3 separate regions of the Homo sapiens genome follow, and all the other regions are reported to be linked to region 1. The links are microRNA targets in miRTarBase. Many come from high-throughput screens and were not tested one by one. Region 1 holds a microRNA gene; each other region holds the end of a gene's coding sequence.

Region 1 (5,140 bases):
GGGCGGATGTACTGGTGGCAGGCTCAGAGAGGGTTGCCTTGGGATTCACAAAGCATGGCCCATGGTGTCCAGACTGGGGGCTTTTGAAGGCTTAGGCTGATGTTCCCCCTTAGCCACACCCTTGCTATCCAAAAGGTCCTGCTCCACATCTGACCGCAAGCAGCCCTCTGACACAGTGCTGGAGGCTCTAAGAATCTGAAGTCTGCCTGTCCCAGGGAAGTCCCTGCAGCAGGTTCTGCTGTGTGTGTCTGTGTCCCCAAGACATTTTTCAGGACAGCTTTGGGAAAAGCACTTTTTAACTGTTAAAAATAGAGAGAGCATTGATACTTGTGAAGATATATGTACTCACTAAAATATATGCAGTGAGCATATATTCACTAAATGAACATGCATTGAAAGTAAACAGCATGATGCCAAGGGCTTGAAGTTCCTTTTCTTGTTGCTTTGTAGGTTAATGAGGCCAGGGGTGTGGATTAACAGTATTCTGGAATCACACAAAACTCTCCAAAGGAACCATTTATGCCACCGTGATAGGAACTGCGTATTGCTCACTTGGATCCTAAGCTGATTTTTAAATTAGATCTTTCCGTGATCCCTTGTTGAGTCTGTTTCATGTGCATTTTATTATATTCTATAAATATTTCACTAGTTGTTTCTAATAATTAGAGAAAAAGTGTCTTTCATCAATTTAAGAGAGAAGGGAATAGTCTGTTAAGGCTGAGCAGTTACTGCATATGAAGGCTCCAATGGTGAGCTTCTACCATTAGCTGGCAAAAAAGAGCAAAAATGCAATGGAAAACAGTGAGGGAGAGAGAGAGAGAAAGAGAGAGAGAGGAGAGAGGCACAGTTACTGAGCCATGTGGCCAACTATTAAAACTAGGAGAAAAGACACAGAAAATGTTGTGTGTGGGGGGGGGTGGGGGTAAAATGCTCCCCCTGAAGAGCACTGAGGCTCTAGGGAGCCCGTTAAACCCAGATAATTCTACTAGAGCAGGAGGGAGCTGGCCTGGGCCTTCCCAGTTAGCACTCACTGAAAACAACGGGCCTCTGCCGAGAAGCTAAACCTGGGACCCCAGGGATGGTTTATCTGGAAGATTAGGGGAGAAACGTGCAAGGCAGCCAAGGCAATCCAGCCATCTCTGCAGCTGGGAAAAGGAGTGATTGTTTTCCTGAGCTGCTAGCCTGGATTTGCAGAAGGAAAGAATGCCTTGTTTCTGTCCCCTGAAGACGCAAGCTGAAAAAATGTCTGGCTGCTCTTCGCCGCCCTCCCAGGTTCTCTCCCACAGCCAAGAACGACTGGCTGCTGCCCTGAGCCGGGAGGTCACAACGCTTGTGGAGTAAGGAGCTCGGGTTTTTGTTTGGGGCTTTGTTTTGTTTTCTTAAGTATCTGCAGGACAATGTTTGGAAGAGTCGTATGCCCCATAAAAGGAAGAAAATGGTGCTCTTGGATTGTAATCAGTGACTTGTGGTTGGCAGTTATGCCTCTGCCTTCAGTACTGCAGGCCTGTGCCTTCCACGGACCTTCCCTAACATCATTTCTGGAGATGATGGGGCCAGCTCTTTAAGAAACTATTTTTTCACGTTATCATGTGGTAAGAACAGAGATGAACCTCAGAGATGAAGAGTGTGATTGAGCTCAGAGAAACTTCAGTGACTTGATTTTAAATGGGCCAAACAGTTGGATTTCTTTTACCTTTTGTGCAGAAAGCCTTCGTTTAGAGAAAAGAGGACTGAATTCTGATGGACAGTAGGTGTGGGAGGGGCAGCATGTTATCACAATAGCATCGTGATGAGATTCCTGGATGGAGGGAATCACTGGTGCTTGCATATTTGGGGCTTCATCTTAGGGAAGTTCCCTAAAATCTCTGTAGCACCCAGTTTTCGTGGGAAGAATGTCGTGGGAGCAGGGGCTTCCCTGACCTTGGAAGCCTGGCCGGTCAGTCTCAAACGAGTTTACTGCCTCCGACCCAATTGTGAGGACTGAGCCAGAGGGAGTGCATGTCAGCCTCAGCCTCCAGCAGCACAGCCCCTTTCTCTACAAGCCTCAGATATAGGGGAAAAAAAACAAAAACAGAGTCAAAAGTAGGTCTTCATTAATAAAAGACTGGGATCTCCCAGAATTAATCATCTTGCTCATCTTTTCCAGTTCTGGAAATCTGATCTTTGAACCTGGTATCCTCAGTCTTAGCACAATACCTGGGACCATAATAGATGCTCAGTAAACTTGGTGGGAGGAAAAAATCAAAGAAGGAGTCAAAATAGAGGTGCTCGGTGCCGAGGAGTTGCTAACCTGGACCATCCAAATAATGACAGTCTGTGGCACTTCAGAAGCATTCCAGAAATGGAACAATGGCACTCCATGAAGCTGTATAAACTCATAATGTATCCTGTAACTAACCCAGTATAGAACAGTAACACTGTTTACACTGATTGGAAGGAAGAAGGTTCATCCTGGCGGTTTATGACATTGCCAGAATGGCTTGAATCCTTGAGGGTGGGTGACAGGTAGAGTGGATAATAAATGGGCCTCCTGGTTCACAGAGCCTGAGAACCTCTCACCCAATGGGCACCTGGTGCCCCTGCAGAGTCCAGTCTAAGAGGACAATTTTTTTTTTCAGATGTAGTCTTGTTCTGTTGCCCAGGTTGGAGTGCCTGATCTCAGCTCACTGCAGCCTCCGCCTCCTGGGTTCAAGCAGTTCCCTGCCTCAGCCTCCCTGGTAGCTGAGATTATAGGTGCACGCCACCACACCCGGCTAATTTTTGTATTTTTAGTAGAGATGCGGTTTCACCATCTTGGCCAGGCTGGTGTTGACGTCCTGACCTCGTGAGCCACCGCGCCCAGCCAAGGACAATTTACTCTAGCCACAGATATGGCCATGGTCCTCATGTAAGCTGACTACAAATACAGCAAATCCACCTTTCCAAAGACTTCATTCTAAAGATGTAAAAGAACAAAAAGAGATAAAGGAAGAGGATGAGAAGACTTGAGAAGAGTGGAAGTGTAGAAAGAAAATGTTTAAGGTTCATCCCCTCCCCACCTTGGGGAGTTCCTTTGGCAGCATCTTCTGAAGGGTACTTCTCCTAGCCCAGGGGCAGAAAGATCCAGTCTTTTGGGGCAGCTGCGGAAGAAAGGAGAGCAGTCCTGTAGCTCATGAAGACATTACGAAGCACAAAGAACTGCACAGGGACAGAGAGTCTTTAGGGTCTCGAGCTCACTCTATGTCCTTGGCTGTTAAGTTCCCCGAGAGCAAACCCCAGCTTCTCGCTTGCTTCAGGCTCTGCATGTGTGAGTGTGACCCTTGGGTACTCTCGGGGCGTTTTCAGCCATGCGATTCTGGGGACTTCAGAGGACTCTGTTCCTTTCTGACTCGTGTTCCGGCGTCTGTGGATTGCTCCCAACAGGAGGAGGAGTATTGTCTATTAAGGGAAAAGATTTCAGTGACCTGGCAGCAGGGAGCGTCGTCAGTGTTTGACTGTTTATGGTATGTCAGGGAGCTGGTTCCTGGCAGTGGCTTCCCCAGGGGTGGGGAGGGGTGTGCTGGGGGTGACAGGAAGCACTGAATCACGACAGAGAAGGGAAAGAAGCCCGCCCGCCACTTCCGGTGTTCACTGAGCAGGTCGGTGGCCAGCGCTGCCTTCGCATCAGAACCCCATTTTAAAACACATCCAAGCGCGTGGCGTCATCGGGACGACGGGCTTCTCCCCAGTAGAGTGTCAGACCAACACCGCCCTGCACAAAGCTCTGTGTTCCCTGCTTTCTGTCATGTTCCCACCCATAGCCAGAAATCCCAGCTGCTGGCCGTCCAGCCCCTATGGAGCAGTGACTAAGGGTGGCTGTGGGACTCACTCACGAGCCTTAGGTTGGGTGTACATAGTTTGTGGCTGATTAGGTGTTGTTAAGGATTTACTGTTCAGGGCTGTTGATTTCTGCCACTGGCTTGTCTTCTCCCAAGGACAAGGGGCCTGCCTATTGGCTTTTAGATCTTAGCACTTAGCAGACTCTCAGAAGTGTTTGCTAGAGGACGTTTTCTGGGGAATGTCCACCTGCACTGATGAAAACAACTCAGTAACAACTCCACTTTGAGAGGAGCAGAGCAGGAGCCTTCCTTAGGTGTGCGTAAGGGGATACCGGCTTTAAAGACGCCAGGCTGAGTTGCTGTGTCAGGATTGATTCTTTACTTCTCCATCTGGAGGTGTTTCTGCTTTATCAGTTTCTCCTTGTTTCCAGCTCTGTCTCGCTGCCAGAGGGCCGACGTTTCCTGGCTTTTGTTGTACTGTGGCACACAGTCTGTTTTGAAAGGACAGGAGCATAATAAAAGCGGATATGAAAGAAGGGCCAGATGACATCACATAGAATACTGGAGGAAGTCCGCGTTTGTGGATGTTTATAATCTCAGCATGTTAGTTGTTTGTAATATGATAAGAGCACTTTTGATACATAGGAGGACTACAAGCCTTGTTGCTTAGACAGGACTCACGAATTTTTATCTTAGGCTCATAGTGACGAACAGAGAATGGGGATCTTGGCCTGGATCCCAAGTGACCCTGGCTCATTGGTTGACCTCGGGTACAAGATTCGGCATAGATGAGCCATTTAAATTGTGCCTAAGCCAGCTACTCATTGAATTTTTTAAAAGAAAGAGAGAGATAGAATAAAGAAAGCTAAGAATTTGACTTATTAGAGATGAATTAGCTTACTAAATTTTTTCCTTTTGAAATCTTACTTCAGAGAAATTGATGGTACCTAGAACTTAACATTAAATCAAGTAAGACCCTTTTAAGGTGAATTCTGGAAGCCATATAGAGTCAGCATTATATGCATGCTTACTCAGTGAAAATCCTAAAGCATGCAAGTGTCTCCATAAAGAGCAATCTCCTTGAACAATAACAGTGTTGACACCTGCTGTTCCCCAGGTCTGTATCGTGAGATGGAAATACACCAGCATCTTCCCCCACTAGGGGAAGATGATAAAATGCAGGTTAAGAACATGGACCATGGATGCTGGGTACTTCCTGCCGGGAGCCGGGCACTATCCTCACCTCTTCCCGTGGGTTAATCTCCTTTCATCCTAACGGCAACCCCAGGAGGCAGGAACAGTAGGTTCTACCCATTTTTTAAATGAGGACCCTGCAGGGCATG
Region 2 (3,089 bases), not on the chromosome of region 1:
GGACCCCAAAACCAAGGCCCTCTGCATCGTTGTTGTAATAATCAGCTCTGGCATATTCAGCTGCAACTGTCCCTGAAGAAGAGGTTTCTGAGCTGGCTGACCCCATGTAGGAGGGTGTTACCTTGTAGAAAAAGCTGGAGGGACCTGGTGGGACAGTGCAGTGAGGCAGGGTAGAAATGGTCAGTTGTTTAGGGCCAGTGGCCACATACCAAAATACCACCAATGTGCCCAGGGCCAAACTGCCTTAATTCTGAGTGCTGTGTGTTCTGCAGGTGACAGTTTCCTGAGGAGAGGGGTGTATCCAGGCTTACCTCCCAGCAGGAGTGGTACCATATGGTGTTTATGTACTACTCTATAGAACTCTTGGCTTGCACTTCTACAGCTCTGTACATTTATAAGAATAAATGCAATCACACTAGTTGAGCTGTGTCTGTGTTGCAGTGGATTTTAAAGGCCTTGGCCAGGCACAATGGCTCATGCTTGTAATCCCAGCACTTTCAGAGGCTGAGGCAAGCAAATCACAAGGTCAGGAGTTTGAGACCAACCTGACCTTACCTGGAATTGTAGATCCTGTCACCCCGTCTCTACTGAAACCCCGTCTCTACTAAAAATACAAAAACTTAGCTGGGTGTGGTGGCAGGCGCCTGTAGTCCCAGCTACTCAGGAGCTGAGGCAGAAGAATCGCTTGAACCCAGTGGGCGGAGGTTGCAGTGAGCTATCGCGCCACTGCACTCCAGCCCGGGAGACAGTGCGAGACTCCGTCTCAAAAAAATAAAAGTTAAGAATATCCTGGATATCCTGAAATGAAGAAATAGCTTAACAGCTGACTACAGCAATTCCTTCTGGAAACTCCCTCCCCTTTCTGCTGTTCCCACTGGGCATCACTTTCGGGCCTGTTTCACTGGACGGCATGAGTGAAATAGGCTCTTGCAAGTCACTTCTGTAGAATGGGTTCCCTTTAGCAGACCTTTTCTTTCCAGCTCATCTTTATTGTTTTTTAGCTGAAGAAAATTTGGAGGCAAGAAAACCCAGGAGATTTTTGAAGGTGGTTTCCTGGAACTCCATTGTATAGGGACTCTAGTGTGGGCAGAAGCCCAGAAAGATTCTTTTGCATGAATTTAAACCTTTATCCCACAGGAAGGAGCCAGTGGACTAAGTGATTAGTCTGTGGTGACAGGATCTACGATTGCAGGTCAGAAACCTCAGCAGCAGCAGACAGCCGACAGCCTCTTGCAGGTGTGTGCCACCCCTGGAGCAGGGCATCAGGAGATTCCCTCCTTCACACTTCCTGCCCGTTTAGGAAAGCTAACTGGGCTTCTCCTCGCCATGAAAATTGTCTAATTCGGTTCCTGAGTCCCTGTAATCTGCAACAGTTGAGTATGTTGTAGAGAAGTGGTTGACAGTCAATGGTTTCAGTTTTGCAGGCCGTACAGTCTAGTGCAACTCTTCAACTTTGCCACTGTGGCTTGAAAGCAGCCAGACAGTATGGAAATGAACAGGTATGGCCAGAACTGGCCTGCCAGCCTGGTTTGCGGACCCCTCCTCTAGGGCCAGTTGAAAAACAGGAGCCGGGCCAGGCGTGGTGGCTCACGCCTGTAATCCCAGCACTTTGGGAGGCTGAGGTGGGCGGATCACGAGGTCAGAAGATCGAGACCATCCTGGCTAACACAGTGAAACCCCATCTCTACTAAAAATACCAAAAAAATTGGCTGGGCGTGGTGGTGGGCGCCTGTGGTCCCAGCTACTTGGGAGGCTGAGGCAGAAGAGTGGCGTGAACCCGGGAGGCGGAGCTTGCAATGAGCCGAGATCGTGCCACTGCACTCCAGCCTGGGCTACAGACCGAGACTCCGTCTCAAAAAAAAAAAAAAGAGAAAAACAGGAGCGAAGAGTCTTGCACTGGTGACTGGTGTATCCTTTGAGTCACCTTCTCTGTAGGGCTGCTTGCAAGCTGTGCCTCTGGGCAGACCCAAGGCCTGCTTGCAAGCTGTGCCTGTGAGGCCAAAGCTGGCTTCCTCTCCCACTCCTTCCCATACCGGTGTTCTGGAGTGTAGCCTGCTCACTCCCCCGAGAAGCTGTATGAAATAGGAATAAAGCAAAAACTGGGGCATCATGTAGGGAGGGCTCTTTTGGCCCACTTTAGGAACAGGTACCCCAAAGGCTGAGTGCTCATTACCCCACAGCCTCAACACAAGTGATCTTTAATTGCTTTGACAGAACAAGGGTGTAAACAGCGTTAGTCTACAGGCCTACCCTTTCCCTTTCCTCCTCTGCAGCTGAGGAAATGGGCAGTCCCATCGCTAGAACCCTGTTCTTAGAAATTACCTGGTCTCTTGCTCTGACAGATGCTGAGCTAATGCTGGGTCACATATTTAACAGCTAGCCTAAAGCCATAGGCTGGAACAGAGTTGGCAAGAGCCTGGCTCAGGTGTAGCGAGGAGTAGAGAGGGAAGACAAAGGGAGTATCAGACCCCTCACACGGGCCTCTCCTCCCCAAAGATGGTTCCACCTGGGTGTGTTCAGGAGTCACTACCTTCACGCTCCCTCCTCCCCCACCCCAGCTCTTCCAGGGTATACCTAAGGGGTCCAGAGCAAGGAAGGGGGCTTGAGCTGGGCCCGAGGAGGTGAGGTTGGCTGGAATTTAGGGTGGCTGGCAGAGGAGAGCTGGGGAGGCTGCAGCCTTTACAGCAGACAGCAGGCACGGAATATCAGCAGGTCCTTCGGCTCAGTAAGCTTCAGTGAGACACTCTCATTGGCCCCAATGAAGAGCACGCCACCACGTTGCAGAGGGATTGGTGTCTGGGTTGTGGGTGTGCTGGCTATTACTGTCCCCTGTACCATCAGGAGGATGCTGGCAGAGTCCAGTGCCAAGACCTTGTATTCAGTGACAGAGCCAGGGACCTGGGCAGGAAGAAATGATAAGGCAGTGCAGCTCAGACTCTGCTCTCATCAGCTCATGGGCCCAGGACAGTCCCCAGGGCACGAGGGAGAGCTCTGCCACCTTCTCGCACAACCCAGGCTCAGTCAGCATAGAGGCCTGGTCCCTGGTACAGGAAGGAATGGGCAGGCCCTGGGGCCACCCTCCGCCAAGT
Region 3 (3,089 bases), not on the chromosome of region 1:
AGACTGTCTGGCTTTTTCTTGTTAGGATGGGAGCAGCTTTTTGTTTGCCGTTTTTTCCCAGCCCTCTACATGCTAAACAGAAGCATAAAACTCCTAAATTTTAATTCAGAAAAAGGGGTTCAGAGCTCATTTACTATCTGTGATCTTTGCTAACTCACTAATTCATAAAGTGGAAATACTAATAATAACAATTATGAATTCATCAACAGAATAGAGGATTATTTCGAGGTTTTAATGAAATAATATGTGTGAAAACACTTGTAAACTAGAAACTGCTGTACAATAATCATTACTTTCCAAGATGTCATTTCCTTTTTCTGTCTTCAGAAACGATCTTCAAGACACAGAAATAAGTCCAAGACAGAATCGCCGCACAAGAGCCGCTGAAAGTGCTGAGATTGAACCAAGAAACAAGCGTAATAGGAATTAATGTGGGCTTTTGCTGACTTTTCAAATGCATTGATTAGAATACCGTACTTTTGGTTGCCACAGATAGATTTTCTATTTATAAATGCCCAAGGAAAGATGCTAAATTCTAAATATTACGGTTAGCTGATATTCATTCTTTTCTGCTTTTCCAGAGGGGAAAAATGTTACAAAATATCCTTACTTGGTCAGTTGCCTCCTGCCTCTAAAACATCTCTCTCTAAAAATACTGACATTTCACACAGGTACCAGCTTTGCAGAGGAGGTAGACTCTTTGGCACTTTGGCACAGGGATTTGGTTTGGTTTGGTTTGGTTTGATAATTAAATTTCAGAATGTCCTTAGGCCATTCTCCTTCTCTTCCATGGAGAATCCAGCCTCACAAAAGGATTCTTTCAACTTCTTTATTGCAAGAAACAGTTGAGTTAAATGTTTGTTTTTGGAAAGGCGGGATGTCAGTTCACATCCTTGGTGTGTGTAAGTACCGATGCACGCCACCACCATGCCTGTGTTACAGCAGCTCCATGATGGTTGTTGCCCGAGGTTAATGTAGTTGTTTGTTAGACCTGTGTCTTACACATTTCTCAGAGTAGGATATTAGTATTATAATTTAAAGCTACGACAGTCACAAAGTCACAATAACTTAGAAACATTGCGCATATTCTTCTGAAATAGCACTTAAAAATGATTAGTGTCAGTATTTTTTCACTTGGGTCAATCAAATCTGTAACACTGAATCCAAGCTATTAAACAAAAAGTATGCAATGAATGAATTTTGTAAATGAATAGAGAGTATCAGTTTACAATAATGTTCTTAAAACAGTATCCTCTGGATAGTTGAGTATGGGTTAGAAATCATTGAAATGGATTGGTCAGAAATTGCTATCTGTGTAAAATGTCTACCAGTAGCCAGATGCTTCCAGAGTTCTTAATGCCTCTCTGGCATTTCAGAGCCAGCATCCCCCAACTCCCACCCCTCTGCCATCACCCAACCCAAACACATCAGCTTTCAAATGAGATGATAGTAAATGCGGCAATGTTAAGACAAGAAATTTATGATTTGCCAGATTCAACATTTATGACCTCCCCTTCCAAAGACTGTCTCCGTTGACCTTGTCTTTTTGGTATGCCTTGGGGTTTCTGATAATGTGTGGAGTCTCATTATGGCTGAGAGTTTAGTGTTTTCACAGTGAAGTGCAGACATTTGATTTCTTTATGAGTTCCCTGTGTTAGAAATGGCTATAGAAAAATTTGTCATAATAATTTCATTTGCATGAAATCCTGAGGGGTGCATTAAGGAAACTAAAAGCACCACTTACCAAATCTATCGGCAGAACTGATGTGAGGTAAGTGAGCATGTCAAACAAAATAGGAGCTCACATGGATATATTTATGTCACTGAGTTGTCAGAAATTATGTCAAAATGAAAACTGTTTGTTTCATGACAAATTATATAGTCTATAAATTAAACTGGAAGTAATTATTACTTTAATTGCAGCAAAAGGAGTTTGTGAGGGAGCGGTGAGACCCAAGATTGGGAAAGTAGGCACATGAGTTCATTCAGCAAATATTTGGTTATCTATGTCTGTCACTGTGCTGACACTGGGAATACAAAGGTGGCCAAAGATCATCTAGAACAATGGTTCCCAGTGGGGTGGGCAGAAAGATTTTGCCCCCCAGGAGACAGCTGGCAATGTGTGGAGACACTTTTGGAGGTGGAGGGTGGTGAGGGGTACTACCAGTATCAATGGGTGGAGGCCAGGGATGAGGCTAAACACCCAACCCTCATGGATTAGTTTGCCAGGGCTGCCGTCACAAGATACTGCAGACGGGGAAGCTTACACAACAGAAATGTGTATTCTCAGAATTCTGGAGGCTGGAAGTCCAAGATCAGTAGGGTTTCTTCTTCGGCCTCTCTCCTTGGCTTCCACTCATGGTGTCCTTGCATGGTCTTTTCTCTGTGTGCACATGACTGTGCAGGACTGGTGTCCCGATTTCTTGTAGGGACAGCAGTCATTGGATCAGGGCCCATGCGTATGGCCTCATTTTACTTCAGTTACCTCTTTTTTAGATAGAGGGCCCTATCTCTAAATACTGTCACATTCTGAGATACCGGCAGTTAAGACTTCCAACATATTTAGTGGTAGGGGTTAAGGGGCACGCTTTAGACTACAACACTCCACAGTAAAGAATTATCCAGTCTAACATGTCAGTTGTGCCAAGACTGAGAAACCTGTAATGTAAAGGAACTCCCAAGTCTACCTGAAAAGTAAGGTCTAAAGAGCATTTATTGAGCACTATCTGTTAGCACTTAGCATATGTTTAATATTCATACATTGAAAGAAATGTATGTTCATATCCATCTGACAAAGATTAAGGAACTTAGAGTAAGTAATAGATCCAAAATTGAAACTGATAAACTTCTGGTTCTAAAATTCACCTTTTAGTGAAAATACAGTTTCTCACCAAACTTACAGTAATTCAGAGTTATTAACTCTTTCTACCTCCTCACTCCCCTCAAAGTTATAACATCTCCCATCAACATCAGCTCAGAATGGCAGTGATGCTTATGGTTTGTGGGGGTGCAGGTGAGCTGCTGGATGCACTTTAGATGGCCTAGTATGCCAGGCCGTCCTTTCATCCTCTACTCTCGTCTTTCTTTTT

Evidence for each region. The annotated mature microRNA hsa-miR-8073 reads ACCUGGCAGCAGGGAGCGUCGU and lies in region 1 at 3,442-3,463, shown strand. An mRNA with a match to its seed (bases 2 to 7 or 8) in the 3' UTR can be bound and repressed. Matches are read on the target gene's strand: a 7mer-m8 pairs with bases 2 to 8, a 7mer-A1 pairs with bases 2 to 7 and ends in A, and an 8mer does both.
Region 2: the mRNA of MPI is a reported target of hsa-miR-8073. Seed matches in the 3' UTR shown: 7mer-A1 at 1,657-1,663.
Region 3: miRTarBase lists RAD18 as a target of hsa-miR-8073. Seed matches in the 3' UTR shown: 7mer-m8 at 2,224-2,230 and 7mer-m8 at 3,048-3,054.

The regions. Positions count from the first base shown.
Region 1 is chr13:110,337,527-110,342,666 of GRCh38, forward strand. MIR8073 (microRNA 8073) reads left to right here and starts at 3,432; the gene lies at 3,432-3,503. All of the region lies in intron 3 of COL4A2 (collagen type IV alpha 2 chain), which reads left to right. RefSeq lists enhancers at 632-1,133, 4,677-5,140 and a silencer at 3,536-3,605.
Region 2 is chr15:74,897,321-74,900,409 of GRCh38, reverse strand. It overlaps MPI (mannose phosphate isomerase), which reads right to left. Exons shown (of 8, transcript NM_002435.3): 8 at 1-2,898. The coding sequence ends at 2,680. It overlaps FAM219B (family with sequence similarity 219 member B), which reads left to right. Exons shown (of 5, transcript NM_020447.5): 5 at 1-418. Among named protein-coding and RNA genes, the nearest start is that of FAM219B, 8.0 kb to the left of the region's middle. RefSeq lists an enhancer at 1,199-1,698.
Region 3 is chr3:8,878,698-8,881,786 of GRCh38, reverse strand. RAD18 (RAD18 E3 ubiquitin protein ligase) reads left to right here. Exons shown (of 13, transcript NM_020165.4): 13 at 328-3,089. The coding sequence ends at 430. Among named protein-coding and RNA genes, the nearest start is that of RAD18, 83 kb to the left of the region's middle.